4 linked regions of the Homo sapiens genome follow. The gene in region 2 interacts genetically with the main gene of each other region. Each region holds a gene or a part of one and is shown on either strand. Other genes may lie near its edges. The genes, in order: MTERF3, ATXN10, CDK12 and UBA2.

Region 1 (5,440 bases), on a different chromosome or scaffold from region 2:
TTAACAAGCCCTCTAGATGATTCTGATATCTACCAAGTTTGAGAACCAATGTTAGAGATTAAGATGTTATTATATAAAAATGTATAAGATTTCATAATCTGTAACACCTCTCTCTCTCCCTTTTTTAAAATTTGCACTCCTCCCCTTAACTAGAATCAAAATGAAATGAATCTGACCTCTGGGAGAGCAACTAGGGAAAGTATGTCTTACCTGCCTCAAAGTAAAACTCCTAAAAACTAGAGTAAGCGGCAGCAACTTTAGAAAGGAGTCAGAAGCAGGCAAGGCTCTACAGCCAGCTACAGAAAGAAGAGACAAATGGGAGATCCGGCCAGACTTGAGCTACAGCCCTGAAGCCTGAGAGACCTGTGAGGTTCCCCGATGAGGCTCAGAGGAAGCCCTTTCAATATTATGCCTGCCTCAAGCTCTCCTCTTGGCTGTTACAGATATAATGTGAACACGGGATGCGTTCACATAACCCCTAGGCCTCTTTCCCTATATTCAAGTGGAAACAGTAACAGATCAGTTGGAAAGGACACTATGAAAAGCAATTGTTGAAAACCAAAGTACTATGAGAAGAGTGACTAAAAAAAGCACAGGGTGTACCTCAACATGGGTTTGGCTTGCTTTTGGAACAGAACATCTCCCTTCTCAGTCTCTGCTATTCTGCCCTTGTTCTGATAACTAAATTCCCATGATCACAATATTATGGATAACGAAGATGTAAGAGGTTTTAGATAGATTTTTTTTTAGAAGTATGACTCCTATGCAGTGATTCTTGGCTTAAAAAACTATCACCCGGCCGGGCGCGGTGGCTCACACCTGTAATCCCAGCACTTTGGGAGGCCAAGGTGGGCGGATCACGAAGTCAAGAGTTTGAGACCATCCTGGCCAACATGGTGAAACCTCGTCTCTACTAAAAACACAAAAATTAGCTGGGCATGGTGGCAGGCGCTTGTAGTCCCAGCTACTCAGGAGGCTGAGTCAGAAGAATCACTTGAACCCGGGAGGCGGCGGTTGCACTGAGCCGAGATCACGCCACTGCACTCCAGCCTGGCGACAGAGCCAGACTCCATCGCAAAAAAAAACAAAAAAAACAAAAAACAAAAAAAAACTATCACCCAACAACAGACAAAACCACAAATGGTTCTGGTGCTCCTAAACGATTACTAATTTCCTAAATATAATAACACTTCAAAGCATTTATTTAGCTTATGAGCAGATATTATACGTTTACTTCTCCAGTGGACCAAAGTTACTCCATCATTAGAGAGTTGTGTACTCTTTCAAGTCCAAAAGCTACTGCTCAGATTGCGGTGTTTCTCCCTTCTTTTTTTATGGATGTGGTGGTGTGGGGGGAGAGTTGTTGGCCACCAGGGGCTACTTTGCCATTGGCACAAAAATTTCATCCTATTAATGACATATTAAATTCTTCGGAGTTAAAAAAAGTGCCCCTAGCCTGAGAATTATTGGTTCCCTCTAATCCTAAGGTGGACTTCAACTTTGCCTTCACAGAAAGTCACAGAGGAAGGGGAGAGTGAAGGTTTCGGGGGATCCTGAATATAACCTCTTTCCTTAGCCTAGTGATTTCTTCACATTCATTACCCTAAAACTGCTTTTGTTATCCTTTACCTTCCAAGATCTCTTCTTTGAAATGACTAAATTGATCATAGTTATTAAGTTATACTTCTTTCCCCATTTTTAATTAATCGTAAGTCAGATCTGCCAACCAGGAATATTATCTACATGAGAAAATTAGTTCCATGCCACTGAGATTTAAACACCAGCCAAAAATGTAAAGTCTATATCAGCCCATTCACAGCCTTACTGTCCGTTAATGTATTTTTTCATTAATAAGCTTTTTATTTTTCTGTTTTTATTCCCCAATAATTCCACCTAGACTCTAGGAATCTGAGAATCCCAATTTGGAAGCCACAATTCTACAACAGAGCTTCTCTGAGGCAAGGGTTTGGGGTGCCTAAAATCTGTGTTTTTAAGTGATTTTGATGCATCTGGTCAGCTTATAATTTCTTCTATTTGGAAAGCTCCTCTCCATCTTTTAAACACCACTCCCTCTTCTACAGACAATTCAAATGTACTTCTAGCAGATCCTAGTAAAGGGCTTGGGTTTTTAAACTGGACTGTTGGAGTTCTAATCGTGGTTCTGCCCCAACCTTGTTACTTGGGTAACCTTGGACAGGTTACTTAAATCTCTTTAAGCTTAAGTTCTTTATGTGTAAAATAGGGGTAATAATAGCATCTACCTCATATGGTTGTTGTGAGAATTAACTGTGTTAATACAAATAAAGCAATAAAGATAGAGCTGGCACACAGTAAGTACTCAATTGCTGTTATTACTTCTATAATTCTCCTACCGCTTCTAAATCACTGTAGGAGCTCTGGTTAGGACTCTACCATCATATAAAGCAATTCTATTTTTAAACCTGTCTTCCACACTCGATTATAAGTTCCACAAGAACAGAGATCATGTCTGCTTGACTTTTGTATCCTCAGTGCCCAATGTGTAGCACTGATGGATGCTCAGTGATATACTGGAAAAATGAATTACCCACCAACCCAGGGAAAAACAAATTGTCATTTCTTTTTCGTTGAAGATTATTTCACAATTACTCCATGAGCCAAATTCACAAAACTGTAGGCTTCTAACACTTCTATAATGGGTATATTTACGTTTGGTAAAATAGGAAAATCCTATATTAGAGGCCCGTTCCTAGTGAAGTATAATAGGCAAATAAATATAGCTGTATGTGAAGGAACTGGACCTAATGCAGTCTAGTTCTGAGAGTTGTATTAAGGTCATATTTCTTTTACCCATCTTTTTTCAAAAACAGGAACATGTGTTCTAGCAAATGGAGTAGAGGGATCACTTAAATAAAAATTCAGTTTGTCATTTATCCAATAAATACTGAGTGGCTATTTGCATAGGAAATAGGAAAAAAGGATTACTTTGATAAAATCCAATCATTCATTTGTTCAACAAATATTAATTGTGTGCCTACTTAGTGCCAGGTGTAGTTCTAGGCACTGAGGATTTGGCAGTGTATAAATCAGACAAAGTTTCTGCTTTTAAAGAGTCAATATTCAAGATTAATATTCTTGTGAACAGCAGATAATATCACTCACTAGGTAAAGAATATGGAAGCTTGATTAGCTTAGAAAATATAATTACGGCTTTGGCATGATGGCAAACTGGATCACTTTTATATTGGGATGGGGATCATTACAATATGGCTTATTGATTCATGAATTTAAATAAACTGTGACTAAAAAGTACACGTAGCAGTGAAAGGACCTTTAAGGGAAGTGATCTATTCCAAAGTAAAGTAGAGAAAAACATGAGAGAGAAGAGAGACTACATTAGATTTGTTGGCCTGATTCCAACAATCAGAACTAGGACTAGGTAGAAACTCCAGGGAAAGAGACTAATCACTGATTTCTCCTCAGGAGATGGACATTTGCGCCCTGCAAATTGTAAACTCTTCCCAGCGTACAGAACTATGCAGCTGGAGAGCAGCTCCAAATGAAGCGCAATGGCAGCGCTTACAGAGAGAGCTGTGAGTGGCATTACCTGTGGGAACTTGACAATGATGTGGTGGGGAATGCTCATCACATTGTGCACAAAATCAAACGTCTCGGTAAGTTTCATTTTATTTGCAGTTAACATCTTTGGGATTCTGGTGATCATATGTTGAATTTCGTTATGTTTAAAACCAAGTTCAAGACGATAAACCTAAAAGAAAGTAAATTTGCTATGAATCGTTATGTAGAAATAGTTATTTTGGTACCATGGCAAGGCTGCACTGATTTTTTTTTTTTTTGAGATGGAGCTCGCTATGTTGCCCAGGATGGAGTGCAGTGGCATGATCTCCTGCCTCAGTCTCCCAAGTAACTGGAACTACAGAGGAATGCCACCACACCTGGCTAATTCTTGTATTTTTAGTACAGCCAGGGTTTCACCATGTTGGCCAGGCTGATCTTGAACTCCTGACCTCAAGTGATCCACCCACCTTGGCCTCCCGAAGTGCTTACAGGTGTGAGCCACCGCGCCTGGCCATGATTTTTTTTTTTGAGACGGAGTCTCGCTTTGTCATCCAGGCTGGAGTGCGGTGGCACGATCTCAGCTTACTGCAACCTCCGTTTCTTGGATTCAAGTGATTCTCCTGCCTCAGCCTTCTAAGTAGCTGGGATTACAGGTGCCCACCACCATGCCTGGCTAATTTTTGTATTTTTAGTAGAGATGAGGTTTCACCATGTTGGCCAGGCTGGTCTCAAACTCCTGACCTCAAGTGATCTGCCCACCTCGGCCTCCCATGCCAGGGTTACAGGCATGAGCCACCACGCCTGACCATGATTCTTTTAAACTTAAAATAACATTTTAAAATTTGGAGACAGCTATGCCAGTGCCTTCAAGGAATTACAGCTTCCGGCTCCTGGGGTCACCAGAATTTCAAACCCCTCTGCTGAGAAAGAGCTACACCATGATGGTCATGAAGCTCACCAAAGGGGCAACCATAATTACAAGAGGGAATGAGTGACATGGGAGCGCTGCAGGTCAGAGGCATGGGCCCAACACCAAACAGATCCTTCAGCAGCAGGATCTTCAAAATGCTTTTTGAGCTTTTGCTCCCAAGTACACCCACATATGTGTTGTCTGAAAAACGACATGTCAACATTCCAAGCAGAGATGAGGAACTAAACAACCAAACACAGGCCGGGTCCTCTACTTGCTTTCATAGTGTCCTGTGTGCCCCCACCAAGTAACTGCCCCCATCACTCTGGATTTGATCCCCCACTAGATTGTAAGCTCCTTGGGAGGAGAAGCTGTCTCCTCAGCATGGCGCTTGGGCAGGAGCTCAATAAAAAGATTTCTTCAATGACTGAACTGTTCACCTCAGAAAACAGCCCTTATATAATATTTCAAATACTACTACAGCTTTATATACTAACTAGTCAGCTGCTCTTGGCTTTATCTTATTCTCTTGGAGGAAGGACAGTAAAGAGTGTCTGGTACATTCTGTGACAGAATGAGAGCTGGCAATTGGGACAGGTGCAAAGGAGAACAATGTGCTGGCTGCTACTCTTTTCACAGAAGTCTTTTGGATCCAGCCTCCAAAACTCCCTGAGACATACACAGACTGTCATGCTGGCCAACAGGAGTACTTTCGTAGACTGGTAACACTGCCCAGGTAACAAAGACGTCAGACGCCCACACTGGGCAACAGAAGCAGTTTCAGGGTACCACTTATATCCCTATCTAATGCTTTAGGATTGTGGGTATCAATGTCTGCAAGGTGATTTACTCAGGTTAATACCTGCTCAACGTGAAAATATTAACTGAAACAAACTGCTTGCTAGACATTTGTTAAAGATAATTTCCTATTTCTCTTTTTAGAAATAACTTATTTTAAAGTCTAGTTTTCTT
Region 2 (6,086 bases):
AAATTGCAAGGCTTTGGAAGAAAATATAAGGAGAATGTCTTTACATGCTTAGAGAAAGATTTTGTACATAAGATATTATTTAAACCTTATTTTAAAAGTAGTATTTAAGCACAGATCCAAAGAAGGTGAGGGAGCCAACTATGCATCTTGCTGGGAGAAGAGCTTGGACTAGAGGCAAAGGCATACAGAGCACGTCACAGGGAAGTCAGGGCTGGCTTCAATGAACCCCAGTGAGAAAAGAGAAGTGCGACTCAGAGAGACAAGACAGAGCCACCCTGGACAGGCACAGTAGGCCACGGAAGGACGCTGGCTTTTATCCTGATGTGAAGCCATGGAAGGTTCTTTTTTTCGTTTTGTTTTTGAGACAGAGTTTTGCTCTGTTGCCCAGGCTGGAGTGCAGAGGCAGGATCTCAGCTCACTGCAACCCCCGCCTCCCAAGTTCAAGCAATTCTCATGCCTCAGCCTCCCAAGTAGGTAGAATTTCAGGCATGTGCCACCATGCCCAACAAATTTTTGTATTTTTAGTAGAGATGGGGTTTCACCATGTTGGCCAGGCTGGTCTCAAACTCCTGGCCTCAGGTGATCCACCTGCCTTGGCCTCCCAAAGTGCTGGGATGACAGGCGTGAGCCACCGTGCCCGGCCCATGGAAGGTTCTGAGCAGAGGGGTGACATCATCTGACTTACATGTTAAAAGGATCTCTTTGGCTGCTTTGTAAAGAATCAATCTTAAAGGGAGAAAGAGACGACAGCAGGAGACCAGTTAGGGGGCTGTTTTTGGAGCAGAGGGAAAGCAGCAGATACGGTAAACAGAAATCAAATTCTGGATATTTTAAAGATAGAGCCAATAGGACTTGATGATGGATTCTTATGAGGGTGTCTAAAAAAGGGGAGTGAAGGATGACATCAAAACTTTAGCCTGAGCCATAAATTGAAAGATGTATTTATTGTTTACAGAAACAAGAGTACTCTGAGGATATCTGGTGGATGAGAGGATCAGTAGAAATACAAGTAGAATGTGAAGTAGTCAGGTGAATAAACAAGTCTAGCATTCAGGAGAAAAATCTAGCTAAGCCAGGTGCAGTGGCTCATGCCTGTAATCCCAGCACTTTGGGAGGCCAAGGTGGGTGGATCACCTGAGGCCAGGAGTTCAAGACCAGACTGGGCAACATGGTAAGACCCTGTCTCTACAAAAAAAATTTAAAAAATAGCCGGGTGTGGTGGTGGATGCCTGTAGTCTCAGCTACAAGGGAGGCTGGGGTGGAAGAACTGCTTATGCCTGGGAGGTCAGGGCTGCAGATCGTGCCCCTGCACTCCAGCCTGGGTGACAGAGCGAGACCCTGTCTCAAAAAAAAAAACAAAGAAGTCCAGCTAAAGAAAAATGTTAGTCACCAGCAAACGGAAGTTATTAAAGCCACAAGATTGAGTGAGAATACTCTGAAAGTAAATATAGGCAGAAAAGAGAAGAGGTCTGAGGACTGAGTTCTGAGATCCGGGAAGGATTATCACTCAGGGAAATGGAGGGAGAGATTTTTCTTAGTATGGAAAAATTACAGCAGATCTATAAACTGATGAGTGCAATCCAATAGAAAGGGTAAAACTGATGATTTTTAAGGGGGGAGAGAAGAAGACTGCTGGAGCAATGTGTGCAAAAGGCAATGGAATTTAGTGCAAACTTAAGGGGAGCTCATATTCAGAGCAAGATCGCTAATCCACAGACCAGAAGCAAAGGCAGGCTACGGGCACAGATACAAGTAGGTGGGCAGAGAGGGTGATGAGAGTTCCTGGAAATTATCTTCTAGTTGCTCCTATTTTCAGAGAGCTGAGAGTGAGGATGAGGGAGATGGGATGGAGGTTTGAAGAGGGTGGAGCATGAAATACCTGACTCGGGGAGCAGGAGAGTCAAGGGACCAGGGCAAACAGCGGGACTGACAGGTAGCATTAAGGGCCACGTTAGTTAGTGATCAGCAAGTTAAAGTGAGAGCAGTCTGCACGGCTGTATGTTTTTCTCTAGCCTTGTTCAGCTATTTGGGTACTGTCGCAAAGGTAACAAGTTGGATTTGACCAGAGCTGGAGTTTTACCAGGCAAACATAACAAAGTTTAGAGAGGAGGCAGTGGAGTTGAGGATGTACATTAAAAAATGCTCTTATTACTCATCCATGGATCTAAGCCAGATCAAGATGGGAATGTGAACATTAAGAAGGGGAATGAAAAACAAAAGGGGTAGTAAATAGGAAATAGGGTCAAAAGACTGTAGGTCCTGGTGAGGTTAAAGACTTGATGAAGCAAGGGCCCTAAAGAGAAGATAAAACAGGGATTGGGACTCGAGATTGTGGGGGAAGGCAGCTACAGTTATGGATAAAGTCTAAGTAAGGTATGGCAATGTGTGTCTGAGATGGGATGGAGGTCAAGCTCACTAAGGGAGAGAAAGTCAAAGAAATTCGAGGTCAGGATAATGAAAGGAAAATCTATATAAACAATGAAATAACGAAGATTTAAGACAGGAGAAGAAATAGAGTGAAAAGTGAGCCAGGGCTAAACTCTTCAAGGAATGAGGCAGACTGACCCAAAGGTCTCTTTTAACCACAAAAGTGATTAAACAAGGGATACTCTGATGTCATGAGATTAAAAGTTGGAGTGGTCTATGGAGGAAAAAGGTCTGAAAGCAGCAATGACAATCAAGGAGAACTACCACACCTTTGAGCCAAGCATTGTACTGAGTGCAGGAGAGAAAACAGCCTCCCACTTTCAAGAACCCTGGGAAAGGCATGTCCTCAGAGCCATATTTCATTTAGATCAAGAAGATGAATGGATGTTTACAGAAGTTCAGGATACAGGGAATTTTGCTGAGGGCATAGAGAAGGATCTTAAGAACTGGGGAGTCAGAAGAGGATTCATGTAAAAAAACCTTAAAGGGTTCCAGGAACAGTGGCTCACACCTGTAATCGCAATACTATGGGAGGCTGAGGCAGGAGGATCACTTGAGCCCAGGAGTTCAAGACCAGCCTGGGAAACATAGTGAGAGCTAATCTCTACCAAAAAAAAAAAAAATTTTTAATTAGCGGGGCATGGTGGCGCTGTGATGGCACCACTGCACTCCAGCCTAGGTGACACAGTGAGACCCTATCTCAAAAAAACAAAAAAGCCTTAAAGGGATGACAGTTCAGAGAGTAAGAGAAAACCTAGGAGTTTCTCATATAACTTAGAAAATCTGTGTGAATTTCTAGCAAAAACCCTGCTGCAATTTTATTATGAATGGCATTGAATCCACAGGTCAATTTGGGAGGTATTGATGTCTTTGTTATTGAGGTTTCCTATAATACAATGGTGTATCTTACCACTTAAGTCTTTTTAAATGTCTTTTGATAGTTTTATAATATTCTCATTGATGATGATGATGACAATGACACCAACAACGAAAACGCTAACACTTAAACTGTGTCTATTAGGTGCCAGACACTGTTCTAAGCAGTACACAAACTCCTCAATAGCTATAATGAAAGAGCATCCCCCACTTATGGATCATCTCGTTAACTCTAATAACTTCTCTAAGCTTGTGGCCATCACAGGGCCCAGCTCACCCTACTGGTAGTCCCACAGTTCCTTTGCTTTTGAGTGTCATTGCCCACAGTCCAGTGACCAAGCCCTTGGGTCCAGTGACCACTACAAAAGACTGGAAGAATGAAAGAGCTGAGAAACTCTGCTCTGAGGGTACTGGTGGTCACAATCCTAACCTTATTTATTTCGATTGGTTTTATTTATTTCGGCTGGCTCAAACTCTTTCCTGTCTACTTCATGCATTTAAGATAATTGAATGTATGAGGTGGCTCACACTGACCACTTCTGTATTTTGAAGCTGAGTCAGAACACCTTACCAAACAATTCCATGTAGCATTCCAGCTCATGGCATAGGTAAAAATAAAGGAAATTGCCAGCACACTCTAAAATATGCTTTTTATAGTGTAACTTAATTGATGTTCTCTCTCAACAAAGTTGAGCTGAATCATGGTTGAGTCAAAACGCCATATGGCGTCCTCAGCCAAGCTGACGACTCGTGTGGGTTTTTGTTTTTTGGGTTTTTGTGTGTTTTGGTGTAGTTAAAGACACTTGCTGCCCAGAGGCTCAGTAATGTCCGGGGAAAATCCATGTGCGTGTGTATACACAGATGGATAGGTTTATTTTTTACCTCTGTGGTATGTTGACCTCTAAAGTGCTTAATCTATTCACTTTCTTTATGAAGGTTAGTCAACATATTTATACAACCAAGTAACAATACCAAGTCATTTTTTACCCCTTGAAATCAGTCATCTGTCATATTTAACGTTTCCTGTCCCCTCCTAATTAAAGTCTTTCTTGTATGCTCTCATTTTCTCTCTCATGGCTCAAGAAAATCAGGTGTTCAAGAAAATAATAAAAATACTATTGGATGCTCATTATGTGGTAGGCCTGAAAGTTGGTACTGAAAACAGAGGTAAATAAGAGTCCTGGCCTCGGGCTGCTCTCACTCTAGTGAGACTGGTAGGTAATTAAGTGATTATGTGAAGTTCTTTGAAAGAGGTAAGCACAGAGTGCCAAGGGAATACAGGGCAAAAGCACCTGAAGGTCAGAAACGGCTTTCAAAAGGAAGTGAAATGGTAACTCAACCTTGAGGGAAAATGAAGAGTGTGTATAAGCAAAGGAATGAAGGCTTAAGACATTTATATTTACAAATTTACAAATTTATTTTGTAAATATAAATTACAAATATACATTTTTAGCAAATTACAAATGTATTAAATTTAATAATTTAATAGCATGTGAGCTACTCCTATGTCAGTAGTTCAAAGTAAGCTACACATAGTTAATTTTATCCTATCAATCACAGCTGCAGCACTAAGCACAGATCTTACATGTATCATGTGTGGTGTGAGTCAATGAATGAATTACATGGTAAACTAATCAATAGCATTTTAGCAATTTGAGTAATTACTGATTGGCTCACTGGAGCTACTGGCTCTTCATTGCTCTATTCAGTTCAGTTCAACATTTACAGAGTACCCAAAATGGGCCAGGCACCCTGCTAAGAAACACCATAAAGTCCCTCCCTTCAAGAAAGGCACTACTGAGTAGGGAAAAAGATACATAAAAGGCTATTTTATTATGAAACAAAAATAGCAGTGAGGGAGGAGTTCACATTTTAAACACATCCCCTCTACTCCAAACAATGTGACTTTTTAAAAATCATAAATATATAGCTTCACATGCCCACCAAAATTCAGTGTCACTCATTTTCATTATAGCCATTCTAATAGGGATGCAGAGGCACCTTACTATGGATTTGTTTATAACAGCACTATTGAGATAGGGTTCACGTGGCACACTAAAGTCACCCACTTAAAGCGTACAATTAAATGGATTTTGGTACATTGTATTATTAATTTTTTTAACTGTGGTAAAATACATATATATAACATAAAATTTGCCATGTTGTTCATTTTAAGTCTACAGTTCAATGGCTTTAATTATATTCACAATGTTGTACAACTATCACCTCTACTTCCAAAATTTTTTTTAACACCCAAATAGAAACTCTGTAAACATGAAGCAGTAACTCCCAATTTCCCCTCTCTCCAAATCCTAGTAACCTCTAATCTACTTTCTGTCTCTACAAGTTTGTCTGTTCTAGGTACTTCATAAAAGCAGAATCATACAGAATTTGTCCTTTTTCATTTTCTTCGGGCACATACCTAAGAGTAAAACTGCTTGGTCATATTCCATGTTTAGCTTTTTGAGGACCCACCAAATTATTTTCCATAGTAGCAGCACCACTTTACATGTCCACTAGCAACACACAAGGGTTCCCATTTCCCCACATCCTCAACGATACTTGTTCTTTTCCATTTTTTGGATAATAGCCATCCTAAACGGCATGCAGTAGTCTCTCACTGAAGTTTTAACTGCATTTCCCTAATAACTAGTGATTTGGAGCACTTTATCATACGCTTATTGGCCTTTATTTTTCTTTGTAAAGCACAGATTTTGCCCAATTTTTAAATTGAGTTGTAGGAGTCTTTTTTATTGAGTTGTAGGTAGGAGTACTTCATATAT
Region 3 (6,086 bases), on a different chromosome or scaffold from region 2:
AGGCCAAGCATGTGTCTCCTGCCTGTAATCCCATGACTTTGGAAGGCTGAGGCGGGAGAATCACTTGAGCCCAGGAGTTTGAGACAGTCTGGACAACATTGTGAGACTCCATTTCTACAATTGGAAAAAAAAAAAAAAAGGCTGGGAGTGGTGGCTCATGCCTGTAATCCCAACACTTTGGGAGGCTGAGGCAGGCAGATCACCTGAAGTCAGGAGTTTGAGACCACCTTGGCCAACATGGTGAAACCCTGTCTCTACTAAAAATACAAAAAAATTAGTCGGGCGTGGTGGCCTGCGCCTATAATCCCAGCTACTCAGTAGGCTGGGACAGGAGAACTGCTTGAATCCAGGAGATGGAGGTTGCAGTGAGCCGAGATCACGCCACTGCACTCCAGCCTGGGCGACAGAGCGAGACTCCGTCTCGGAAAAAACAAAAAAGGCTGGGAGCAGTAGCTCACATCTGTAATCCCGGCACCTTGGGAGGCCAAGGCGGGCGGATCACCTGAGGCCAGGAGTTCAAGATCAGCCCGGCCAACGTGATGAAACCCTGTCTCTACTAAAAATACAAAAATTAGCCGGGCATGGTGGCGTAATTCCAGCTACTTGGGAGGCTGAGGCAGGAGAATTGCTTGAAACTGGGAGGCGGAGATTGCAGTGAGCCAATATCACACCACTGCACTCCAGCCTGGATGCGAAGAGTGAAACTCCGTCTCAAAACACACAAACAAACAAACAGGCCAGGCACGGTGGCTCACACCTGTGATCCCAGCACTTTGAGAGGCCAAGATGGGCAGGAGTTCAAGACCAGCCTGGCCAACATGGTGAAACCCCATCTCTACTAAAAATACAAAAAAATGGCCAGGCACTGTGGCTCATGCCTGTAATCCCAGCACTTTGGGAGGCCGAGGTGGGCAGATCACCTGAGGTCGGGAGTTCGAGACCAACCTGACCAACATGGAGAAACTCTGTCTCTACTAAAAACACAAAATTAGCTGGGCATGGTGGCACGTGCCTGTAATTTCAGCTTGGGAAGGCTGAGGCAGGTGAATCGCTTGAACCTGGGAAGCAGAGGTTGCGGCGAGCTGAGATTGCGCCATTGTACTCCAGCCTGGGGAACAAGAGCGAAACTCCATCTCAAAAAACAAAACAAAATGAAACAAAAATACAAAAAAATTAGCCGGGTGTGGTGGCAGGCACCTGTAATCCTAGCTACTTGCAAGGCTAAGGCAGGAGAATCGCTAGAACCCGGGAGGTGGAGGAGGCAGAGCAAGATTCCATCTCAAAACAACAACAACAACAACAACAACAAAAACACGCTGGACGCAGTGGCTTACGCCTGTAATCCCAGCACTTTCGGAGGCCAGGGTGGGTCACCTGAGGTCAGGAGTTCGAGACCAGCTGGGCCAGCAAGGTGTAACCCCGTCTCTACTAAAAATACAAAAATTAGCTGGGTGTGGTGGTGTGTGTCTGTAGTCCCAGCTACTCGGGAGGCTGAGGCAGGAGAATCGCTTGAACCCTGCAGAGGTTGCAGTGAGCTGAGTTGCACCACTGCATTCCAGCCTGGGCGACAGAGACTCCATCTCAAAAATAAATAAATAAATAAATAAACCAACCCACAAAAATCTAAAAGGAATACTTTCAAAGAGGCTCTACACAACAATATTCTGGGATGGAGATCCAGGGACAAAAGAAGATAGCTTGAGTCAAATTAGAACAAGTATCAAAGCTAAATCTATTACTTATATAAAGAAAAAAACAACAAAGATAAAACAAAAAAAACAAACCTCAACCATAATACTCAAAGACACCTCTTCATTTGGGTCTTACTGGGCATCTGTGGTTCTTTTATGAGTTTCTCATCGTCTAAGGCCCAGGGAAAGATTTAGGGTCACAACATGGCTACCAGCACTTACTCTGGAGGAGCCATTTTGCTGAGTTCGACATCTTTAAGGAAGTCGCTCTGTAGGGTCTGTTCAGCTGTGCACCGCTTACTAGGATCTAGTGTCAGCATGTGGTCCAATAAATCAAGTGCTGCAGAAGGAATGCTATGGAAAAGAACACAGAAAGGACAAGTTCACAATGACCCTACAGTTCTCAAATTTGTAATTTTGTTTCAAAGGGTCTCACACCTGTAATTCCAGCACTTTGGGAGGCCAAGGTAGGACTGCGTGAGGCCAGAAGTTTGAGATCAACCTGGGCAACATACTGAAACCTCATGTCTACAAATATATATATATTTTTAATTAGCTGGGTGCAATGCTGTGCACCCTGTAGTCTCAGCTATTTGGGAGGCTGACATTGGAAAATCACTTGAGCCTAGGAATTTGAGGCTGCAATGAGTTCTTACTGCACAACTGCATTGCAGCCTGGGCAACAGAGCAAGAGCCCATCTCTTTTTAAAAAAAAAAAAAAAAAGGATGTGCAATGGTGGCTCATGCCTACAGTCCCACACAGCACTTTGGGAGGCTGAAGCGGGTGGATCGTTTGAGGCCAGGAGTTCAGGACCAGCCTGGCCAACATAGTGAAACCCCATTAGCCAGGCATGGTGATGCACGCCTGTAATTCTAGCTCCTTGGAGGGCTGAGAATCGCTTGGACCCAGGAGGCGGAGGTTGCAGTGAGCCAAGATCACACTGCTGCACTCCTCCAGCCTAGGTGACAGAGTGAGACGGTCTCAAAAAAAAAAAAAAAAAAAAAAAAAAAGTCTTTGAATTTCCATGTAAAACCAAAGAAAGCAAGCTGGAGGTTGGCTAACACAAGCAAGCAGATTTGCTCCCACACAGGATTTAAGAAATGCTGGGCCGGGCACAGTAGCTCATGCCTGTAATCCCAGCACTTTGTGGGGCCGAGGCGGGCAGATAATCTGAGGTCAGGAGTTCGAGACCAGCCTGGCTAACATGGTGAAACCCCGTTTCTACTAAAAATACAAAAAATTAGCTGGGTGTGGTGGCACGTGCCAGTAATCCTTGCTACTCAGGAGGCTAAGGCAGGAGAATCACTTAAACCCAGGAGGCGGAGGTTGCAGTGAGCCGAGATGATGCCACTGCACTCTGGCTTGGGCAACAAGAGCGAAACCCCATCTCAAAAACAAACAAACGAGAAATGCTGTGCTATAACACAAGTAAAAAATATGGCCAATTCTGGCTAGGTGTGGTGGGCTTACACCTATAATCCCAGCTCTTTGGGAGGCTGAGGTGGGCAGATCACTTGAGGTCAGGAGTTCAAGACCAGCCTGGCCAACATGGTGAAATGCCATCTCTACTAAAAATACAAAAATTAACTGTGCATGGTGGCGGGTGCCTGTAATTCCAGCTACTTGGAAGGCTGAGGCAGGAGAATTCCTTGAACCTGGGAGACGAAGGTTGTGGTGAGCCAAGATCGCGTCACTGCACTCCAACCTGGGTGACACACACAAAAATATGGCCAGTTCTATCCATCTATTAAAGTTAAAAAAAGTAAAATAAAATAACAGAGAGGGAAAAAAGTAAGAAGAAAACAAAACCAAAACATGGCCAGGCGTGGTAGCACGAGTGATCTTCCTGCCTCAGCCTCTCAAAGTTTAAGCCCAGCAATTTGGGGGGCTGAGGCAGGAAGAGCACTTGAGCCCAGGAGCTCAAGACCAGCCTGGGCAACATTAGGAGACCCTATCTCTACACGGAAAAAAAAAAAATGCCAGGTGTGGTGGCGGGTGCCTGTGGTCCCAGCTATTCAGAAGGCTAAGGTGGGGCCGGACTCAGAGGCTCACGCCTATAATCCCAGCACTTTGGAAGGCAGAGGTGGGTGGATCACAAAGTCAGGAGTTCAAGACCAGCCTGGCCAACATGCTGAAACCCTGTCTCTACTAAAAATACAAAAATTAGCTGGGTGCAGTGGCAGAGGCCTCTAATCCCAACTACATTGGGAGGCTGAGGCAGGAGAATCACTTGAACTTGGGGGGCAGAGGTTGCAGTGAGCCAAGATCATGCCACTGCACTCCAGCCTAAGTGGCAAAGTGAGACTCTGTCTCAAAAAAAAAAAAAAAAAATGAAGGCTAAGGTGGGAGGATTGCTTGAGCCCAGCAGGTCAAGGCTGCAGTGAGCCCTAAACGTGCCACTGCACTCCAGCCTGGACAACACAGCAAGACCCTGTCTCAATTTAAAAAACAAACAAACAAAACCCATGAAGCCAACAATTCCATTCTCTTTTTCTCATGGAAAGATCAAGAAGGCTATGAGAAAATTTATATATTGTTCAAAATAAAATGGTTTTCTATTGTCTAAAGCCTTCAGAAGAGAAAATTACAAAAGGGCTATGATAAAACTCATATACTGTTCGAAACTAAAATGTTTTCCTACACTGTGTTGCCATGATAAACTGGGACAACATTAACTACCCAGACCAGGAAAAAGCCAAGTCCCAACACCAGCCAGACACAGAAACGAGATGTTCATTTTCCCCAAACTCACAAAGAGAATTCTTCTCGTAGACGCCTTCGATATTGCTTCTTCGGTTTCATGGTGTTGAAGTAGGGCAGTTTGATAACATCAGGCCACACAGCTGGACAAGGGCTACCACAAAGTCGGCTGAAAACAAAGCAAAAGCAAGAACAATGGAGTGAGTGAGTCAACATCATGAATTCCGGAGGTTTCAGAAGCAGAAATTATTACCTCCTGAGGTCTGGGGAATCTTTGGTTATTACATTACAGGGCATGCAGAAAGGAAAATATGACATTACTGCTTTAAGGGCAGAAAGGCAGAGAACAGAAAGAACTGGTTATAACAGAGGAAAGAAAAAATACTCGGATAATAATCCTAAATGATCCACATTATTTGGATTTGTGAAATGTTTTAATCCCCCCATACAGGTTTTTATTACCAGTTTTGTTCTGTTCAGTTAGTAGTAATTACAAAGGGCTAAGATGATCCTATAGTATCCCTATAGGGTAAACTGTGAGATGAGAAGAGAGTATAAGACTGAAAATTTTGAGAGATAATCAACAGTTTACCAAATAACAACAACAAAAATATCACCTTTATCACCTTTAAAAAATGTCTACATTGGCCGGGCACGGTGGCTCACGCCTGTAATCCCAGCACTTTGGGAGGCCGAGGTGGGCGGATCATGAGGTCAGGAGATCGAGACCATCCTGGCTAACATGGTGAAACCCCGTCTCTACTAAAAATACAAAAAAATGAGCCGCGTGTGGTGGTGGGCACCTGTAGTCCCAGCTACTCGGGAGGCTGAGGCAGGAGAATGGCTTGAACCTGGGAGGTGGAGCTTGCAGTGAGCCAAGATCACGCCACTGCACTCCAGCCTGGGTGACAGAGCAAGATTCCATCTCAAAAAAAAAAAAAAAAAAAAGTCTGCATTAGGCTGGTGTGGTGGCTCACGTGTGTAATCCCAGCACTTTGGGAGGTCAAGGTGGGAGGACTGTTTGAGCCCAGGAGTTCCAGCCCAGGCAACAAACATAATGAGACCCTATCTCTACAAAACAAATGAACGAAAAATAGCTGGGACTACAGGTGTAGTCCAAGCTACTCAGGAGGGTAAGGTGGGAGGATCACTTGAGTGCAGGAGTTTGAGGCTGCAGTGAACTATGATCACACCACTGCACTCCAGTCTAGGTGACAGAGCGAGACCCTGTCTAAAAAAAAAAATACAAAAAACATTAGCCTGCTATATTCTTCCCTTTAATTTTATTGAAAAAAACAAAACAAAAACAAACCCACCCAAATGCCAGCCCAATCCTGGGCTTTCCCCATATTTTCTATTATAGGTTGTATTTTATAACTATTTACATGCTATATACCTTACTAAACTCTGAATTCTTTGAAGGCGGGGACCTATTTTTTATCTCTGAATCCTAAAGTTTAATGTTAAAAGTAATCTGTTGTATAACAGGCTCAATAAATGTTTGCTGAATAAATTTAATCTCATCTGAGCTATGAATGGAAGAGCCATCCCCAAAATGGTATGCTTTTATATGAAGAGCTAATAAAAAATATGCAAAGTAAGATCTAAAAATTAGGTGAAATAAAACTTCTTTATATGTATAGCCTATGACAAAATATATGGTAAACCTGACTGAGTAAAGAGAAACTTACTTG
Region 4 (6,086 bases), on a different chromosome or scaffold from region 2:
AATCCCAGCTACTCGGGAAGCTGAGGCAGGAGAATCGCTTGAACCCAGGAGATGGAGGTTGCAGTGAGCCGAGACTGCACAACTGCACTCCGGCCTGGGCAACAGAGCAAGACTCCGTCTCAAAAAAAAAAAAAAAAAAGTGAATAACGGATAAATGACTATAAACTTAAAAGTTTAACACAATGTGCTTGGACAGCTTGCATCCCAATTTCAACAGCAATGTAAGCAAGGTTAAATTTTAGCAGACCTACATCCATTCCTATCAGCGAGGCTCTGCACATTTCAATGTTAAAACCTCTGCTCAAGAAACAGGTGAGTGGTTTTCACTTACAACCTGGATAACATTCTAACACCAGAATAATGTTTGTGTTTACACCTGCAGCTACCTGTTCAACAAACATTATTATATACCTCAGGTGCAGAGTCCCCATCTAGGGGATAGAAATTCAGCAATGAACAAGATTAACTTTTTTTCATGGTAGAATGGCTCTTTACTGCTGAACAGAGTGTTAACAAACAATTTGAAAGTATTAAGCTGAGATTCTCTTTTATTAATAAAGTTATCCTAAAAACTGTTTAATAACTCATGGATATAAAAGTTTCCAGTATTTCCTCAAGTATATGATTAATGAAAGTTATCTTACAGAAATCCTTTGTACAACCCCCCACCCAACTATAATTTCAAAGCTCTGATAGTCACTCCCAACAATGGCATGTTAACACTTCCTAAAATTAACGCTTTGCCAACTAGTGAGTGCAAAATAGTAGACAGCCGCTAATTTAAAATGGTCCACCAATGATTTTTCACCTTTACAACAGGTTTATTGAGGTTATATTAAAATGCATTTTTGGCTGGGCGTGGTGGCTCACATGTGTAATCCCAACACTTTGGGAGGCCGAGGCGGGTGGATCAACCGAAGTCAGGAGTTTGAGACCAGCCTGGCCAACAAGGTGAAACCCTGTATCTACTAAAATACAAATATTAGCTGGGCGTGGTGGCAGACGCCTGTAATCCCAGCCACTCGAGAGGCTGAGCAGGAGAATCGCTTGAACCCAGGAGGCAGAGATTGCAGTTGCACTGCACTCCAGCCTGGGCAACAAGAGCGAAACTCCATCTCAAAAAAACAACAACAAAAAAAGCATCATTTTTTACTTAATGGTATTTTTTATTTATGATGAGTTTATCGGGAAGTATCTGAGAAGCATCTGTAGCTTACTATGGTCTTATACTTAATTTTCCAAGTAAGTCTTATGATTAAAACATAACTTGCTTATTGCTTATTTAGGTTTCCCTTCGAGTGAAAAATGCTGCTCATATTAATTTTGCCAGATTATCTTTTTTGTGTGTGTGACAGGGTCTTACTGTCCCCAAGGCTAGTGTGCAGTGGTGTGATCACAGCTCACTGCAGCCTCGACCTCCTAGGCTCAAGTGATCCTCTCACCTCAGCCTCCCAAGTAGCTGGGACCACAGGCATGTGCCACCATGCCTTGCTAATTTTTAAATTTTTTGTAGTGATGGGGTTTCACTATGTTGCCCACACTGCTCTCAAACTGCTGGGCTCAAGCAATCCTCCTGCCTTGGCCTCCTAAAGAGCCGGGATTACAGGTGTGTGTCACTGCACCTGGCCACATTATCTTTTTTTTTTTTTTGTCTTTTTCTGAGACACAGTCTCGCTCTGTCCCCCAGGTTGGAGTGCAGTAGCATGATCTCCATTCACTTCAACCTCCGCCTCCCAGGTTCAAGCGGCTCTCATGGCTCAGCCTCCCGAGTAGGTGGGACTACAGGCGTGTGCCACCACACCCCACTAATTTTTGTATTTTTAGTAGAGACAGGGTTTCGCCATGTTGCCCAGGCAGTTCTCAAACTCCTGGCCTCAAGTGATTCACCCACCTCAGCCTCCCAAAGAAAAAAAATGTTTGCCAAATAAATAAAGCTTCCAAGTGTAGTTTTTGTGAACATTTATCAAGTTGACACTGTTATGTATACTTTTCTGAGTGCAAAAATTAAAGACAATGTTTGCTGAAGGTTTCTACAAAATACCCTTTATCGGGTTGAGAACATTCTCATTTTAGTAAGAAGTTTTTTTATTTTTAATTTTATCTATTTATTTATTTTTTATTTTTTTGAGACGGAGTATCGCTCTGTCGCCCAGGCTGGAGTGCAGTGGTGCAATCTCAGCTCACTGCAACCTCCGCCTCCCGGGTTCACGCCATTCTCCTGCCTCAGCCTCCTGAGCAGCTGGGACTACAGGCACCCACCACCACATCCGGCTAATTTTTTTTATTTGTAGTAGAGATGGGGTTTCACCGTGTTAGCCAGGATGGTCTCGATCTCCTGACCTCGTGATCCGCTCGCCTCAGCCTCCCAAAGTGCTGGGATTACAGGCGTGAGCCACCTCGCCCGGCCTAGTAAGTTTTTATTCTGTTTTAGTAGAAACTTTCATCATGAAAGGCCATTTGCTAAATTTTACCAAATGCTTTCTCTGTATCTATGAAAACTATATAGTTTATCTTTAATTTCCTAATGAGTGAATGACATTTACAGATTTTCTAGTTTAAACCATGCTTGTATTCCTGAATAGACACGTGGTCAAGACACACTTTTTATTTTATATGATTCTAGATCCATATGGTAATTTTTTTTTTTTTTTTTTTGAGATGGAGTCTTGCTCTGTTGCCCAGGCTGGAGCGCAGCAGAGCGATCTCGGCTCACTGCAGCCTCCACCTCCCGGGTTCAAGCAATTCTCCTGCCTCAGCCTCCCAAGTAGCTGGGATTATAGGCGCCCACCACCATGTCCGGCTAATTTTGTATTTTTAATAGAGACAGGATTTCGCCATATTGGCCAAGTTGGTCTTGAACTCCTGACCTCAGGTGATCCACCCGCTTCAGCTTCCAAGTGCTGAGATTACAGGCATGATACACTGCGCCCATTCCCAGGATATGCTAATATTTTACATAGGATTTTTGCATCTATTATTTAGGTGTGAGACTGACTAGCAATTGTTTCTTATGCCATAATGGCCTTGACAGGTTTTGCTATCAAAGACATTGCTAGCCTAATAACACAAGCTAAGTAGTATTCCCTTTTAAAAATTTCTCAGGGAGAGTTTAGCTAATATTACAATATACTCCTTGCAAGTTTTGTGAAATGAATCTGTAAAAATAACATAGGTTCGGTGCATTATTTAGAATAATTTAAACTACTTACATTGCTCTAAGGTATACTGCTAAATTCAGGCATTCTATTTTCCTTTCATTTTTTTTTTTTTTTTGAAACATCATCTCATGCTGTCCCCCAGGCTGGAGTGCAGTGGCCCAATCTCCACCCACTGGGTTCAAGTGATTCTCATGGCTCAGTCTCCCAAGTAGCTGGGACTACAGATGCCCACCACCACGCCTGGTTAATTTTTGTATTTATAGTAGAGACGGGGTTTCGCCATGTTGGCCAGGCTGTTCTCAAACTCCTGGCCTCAAGTGACCCACCCACCTCAGCCTCCCAAAGTGCTGGGATTGCAGGCCTGAGCCACCGCACTGGGCACTTAGTAAGTTTTTAAAAATGTATTTACCCAGATCATTTAAATTTTTTATGTACTACCATGGTCTTATTATCATCCCTTTTTTTTCTTATAGCCTATTTAATCTCTGCTATCTGTATTCCCCGTTTAGTTCTCACTTACTCCTCTTCTATTTTGTAATCAAATGTGCTCTTACTTCAATTAATATCCTTCCTTCTCATTCTTTTTTTCTTTCTTTCTTCATTTTAAGACAGGATCTCACTATCACCCAGGCTGGAGTGCAGTGGCACTATCTCGGTTCACTGCAGCCTCAACCTCCCAGGCTCAACTGATCCTCCTACCTCGGCCTCCCAAGTAGCTGGGAGTACAGGTACACCTGGCTCATTTTTCTATTTTTTGTAGAGACACGGTTTTGCCATGTTTCCCAGGCTGGTCTCAAACTCCTGGGCTCAAGGGATCCTCCCATCTCACCCTCCCACAGTGCTGGGATTAGAGGCATGAGCCACCATGCCCACACCATTCTCATTTCTTAAAGTGTATTCTGTGGTTCATTTTCTAACTTAAATTGGATTCTTAGTAAAGATTTAGTAATTAATGTTCAGCCTTTCTTCATGTATGTAAATCTGTAACTTTTTGCCAACCACCACATTCAATACATTCTGGTATAGCATTTTCATCATTATCAGTACAGAGTATTTTTAACTTCCATTGTGATTTCTTTTATAACCAATGGGTTATTTGTAAGTAAATGTTCACATTTCCAAATATAAAGATTTTTATCGCTTAGTTACATGGCTGTCTCCAATATAAGACTAAGTTTCCTGAACAGTCATGGCCACATTTTTTTTTTTTTTTTTTGAGACAAATTCTCACTCTGTTGCCAAGCTGGAGTGCAGTGGCGCGATCTCGGCTCACTCCAACCTCCACCTCCTGGGTTCAAGCAATTCTCTTGCCTCAGCCTCCCGAGTAGCTGGGATTACAGGCACTCGCCATCACGGCCAACTAATTTTTGTATTTTTAGTAGAGATGTGTTTCACCATGCTGGCCACGCTGGTCTCAAACTCCTGCGCTCAGGTGATCCGACCACCTCAGTTTCCCAAAGTGCCGGGATTACAGGTGTGAGCCACCGCACCCGGCCAGCTACATTTAACCTAAGAAATACTGCAAGAAAGCTACTAAAGCATCCCTTCACCATATTTAAACATCCTGAGTTCAATCTCTTCAAGGTAATTAAATAAAAATGACTCCATTTTCCATCATCAGTACCGAAAAGCATGCCAAGAAATATACACTCTTACTTGAACAAGTACTTTGCCCAAACGATGCAATGTATAGGTTCTGAAGGTGTGTTACGAATTGTACAGCCAGGAAAGGTTCTCTGGGTCGGCTTAGGATGACACTCATAACACTCGGTCACACCCTATGAAGTCAGGATATGAGAAAAATTTACTCCATGATGGCAGTTTCTCAACATTATAAGGTAATATAAACACTTCATTCATCTATATTCCAACTACGTTTTACGTTGTCAAGGAAATTTTAAAATATTAGTGACTCCAAAATGCTTACTTTATGATAAACTAACACAAAAGCTAACTGAATCTACCAGTCATAGCTAAGGCTGTGCCAGGACGCCGACTCCTGGTTCAGTGAACATGACTTACAAGCCCAAATAAAAATTACTACACCTGAGTGTCAAATATGAGTTTACCTTGATCACACTAAACAGAAAAACTACTGGAAAGACAAACAGCAGCTTTCCAAGAAATTATTTCTCAAAGTTGTAAATGTTATCTAAATATTATTCGCAGCCATTTTCTTATATGTGTTTTTTTTTTTTTTTTGAGCAAAACTAAGTGGGTCTGGGGAATACAGCCATATCCTTATAATCTCCTGAAATTAAGTAAACTACAAGATTAATTTCAAGATATATCTCCCTACACAGAAAAATCTTAGGTGTTACTAAACCAAATACTCTTCATTTTATTGATATACGTTTCTTTTTGGCGGTGGGGAGACGGAGTCTTGCTCTGTCACCCTGGCTGGAGTACAGTGGCATAATCTTGGCTGCAATCTCCGCCTCCCAGGTTCAAGCAATTCTCCTGCCTCAGGCTCCCAAAGAGCTGGGATTACAGGCATCTCCCACCACTCCCAGCTAATTTTCATATTTTTAGTAGAGACGGGGTTTTTCCATGTTGGCCAGCTTGGTCTTGAACTCCTGACTTCATGTGATTCGCCCGCCTTGGCTTCCCAAAAGTGCTGGGATTACAGGCGTGAGCCACTGCGCCCAGCCCATTTTATTGATACACATTCAAGTTTAAAATTACAATTTAAGGAATTTATGCCTTGGAAGAAGTACATGACACCTGAGACAACTTTTCAAAACTATCAAATGAATCATCTTTCATTATCTCAGATATTCCTAACCTCAGTCTCTTCTTTTTTTCTTTTTGTCTGAGACGGAATTTCGCTCGTTGCCCAGGTTGGAGTGCAATGGCGTGATCTAGGCTCACCACAACCTCTGCCTCCCGGGTTCAAGTGATTCTTTTGCCTCAGCCTCCCAAGTAGCT

What was found.
Region 1: changes in ATXN10 (region 2) and MTERF3 together harm fitness less than expected from each alone (positive genetic interaction), as found in Homo sapiens cells (one large-scale study listed by BioGRID).
Region 3: changes in ATXN10 (region 2) and CDK12 together harm fitness less than expected from each alone (positive genetic interaction), as found in Homo sapiens cells (one large-scale study listed by BioGRID).
Region 4: changes in ATXN10 (region 2) and UBA2 together harm fitness less than expected from each alone (positive genetic interaction), as found in Homo sapiens cells (one large-scale study listed by BioGRID).

The regions. Positions count from the first base shown.
Region 1 is NC_000008.11:96,240,333-96,245,772, forward strand, and holds part of MTERF3 (transcription termination factor 3, mitochondrial isoform 1 precursor), read right to left. Parts: intron 3,749-5,440; coding exon 3,587-3,748; intron 1-3,586.
Region 2 is NC_000022.11:45,677,594-45,683,679, reverse strand, and holds part of ATXN10 (ataxin-10), read right to left. Parts: intron 1-6,086. UniProt on the Homo sapiens protein: May play a role in the regulation of cytokinesis. May play a role in signaling by stimulating protein glycosylation. Induces neuritogenesis by activating the Ras-MAP kinase pathway and is necessary for the survival of cerebellar neurons.
Region 3 is NC_000017.11:39,515,915-39,522,000, reverse strand, and holds part of CDK12 (cyclin-dependent kinase 12), read right to left. Parts: intron 4,562-6,086; coding exon 4,445-4,561; intron 2,046-4,444; coding exon 1,914-2,045; intron 1-1,913. UniProt on the Homo sapiens protein: Cyclin-dependent kinase that phosphorylates the C-terminal domain (CTD) of the large subunit of RNA polymerase II (POLR2A), thereby acting as a key regulator of transcription elongation.
Region 4 is NC_000019.10:34,437,495-34,443,580, reverse strand, and holds part of UBA2 (SUMO-activating enzyme subunit 2), read right to left. Parts: intron 4,937-6,086; coding exon 4,815-4,936; intron 1-4,814. UniProt on the Homo sapiens protein: The heterodimer acts as an E1 ligase for SUMO1, SUMO2, SUMO3, and probably SUMO4. It mediates ATP-dependent activation of SUMO proteins followed by formation of a thioester bond between a SUMO protein and a conserved active site cysteine residue on UBA2/SAE2.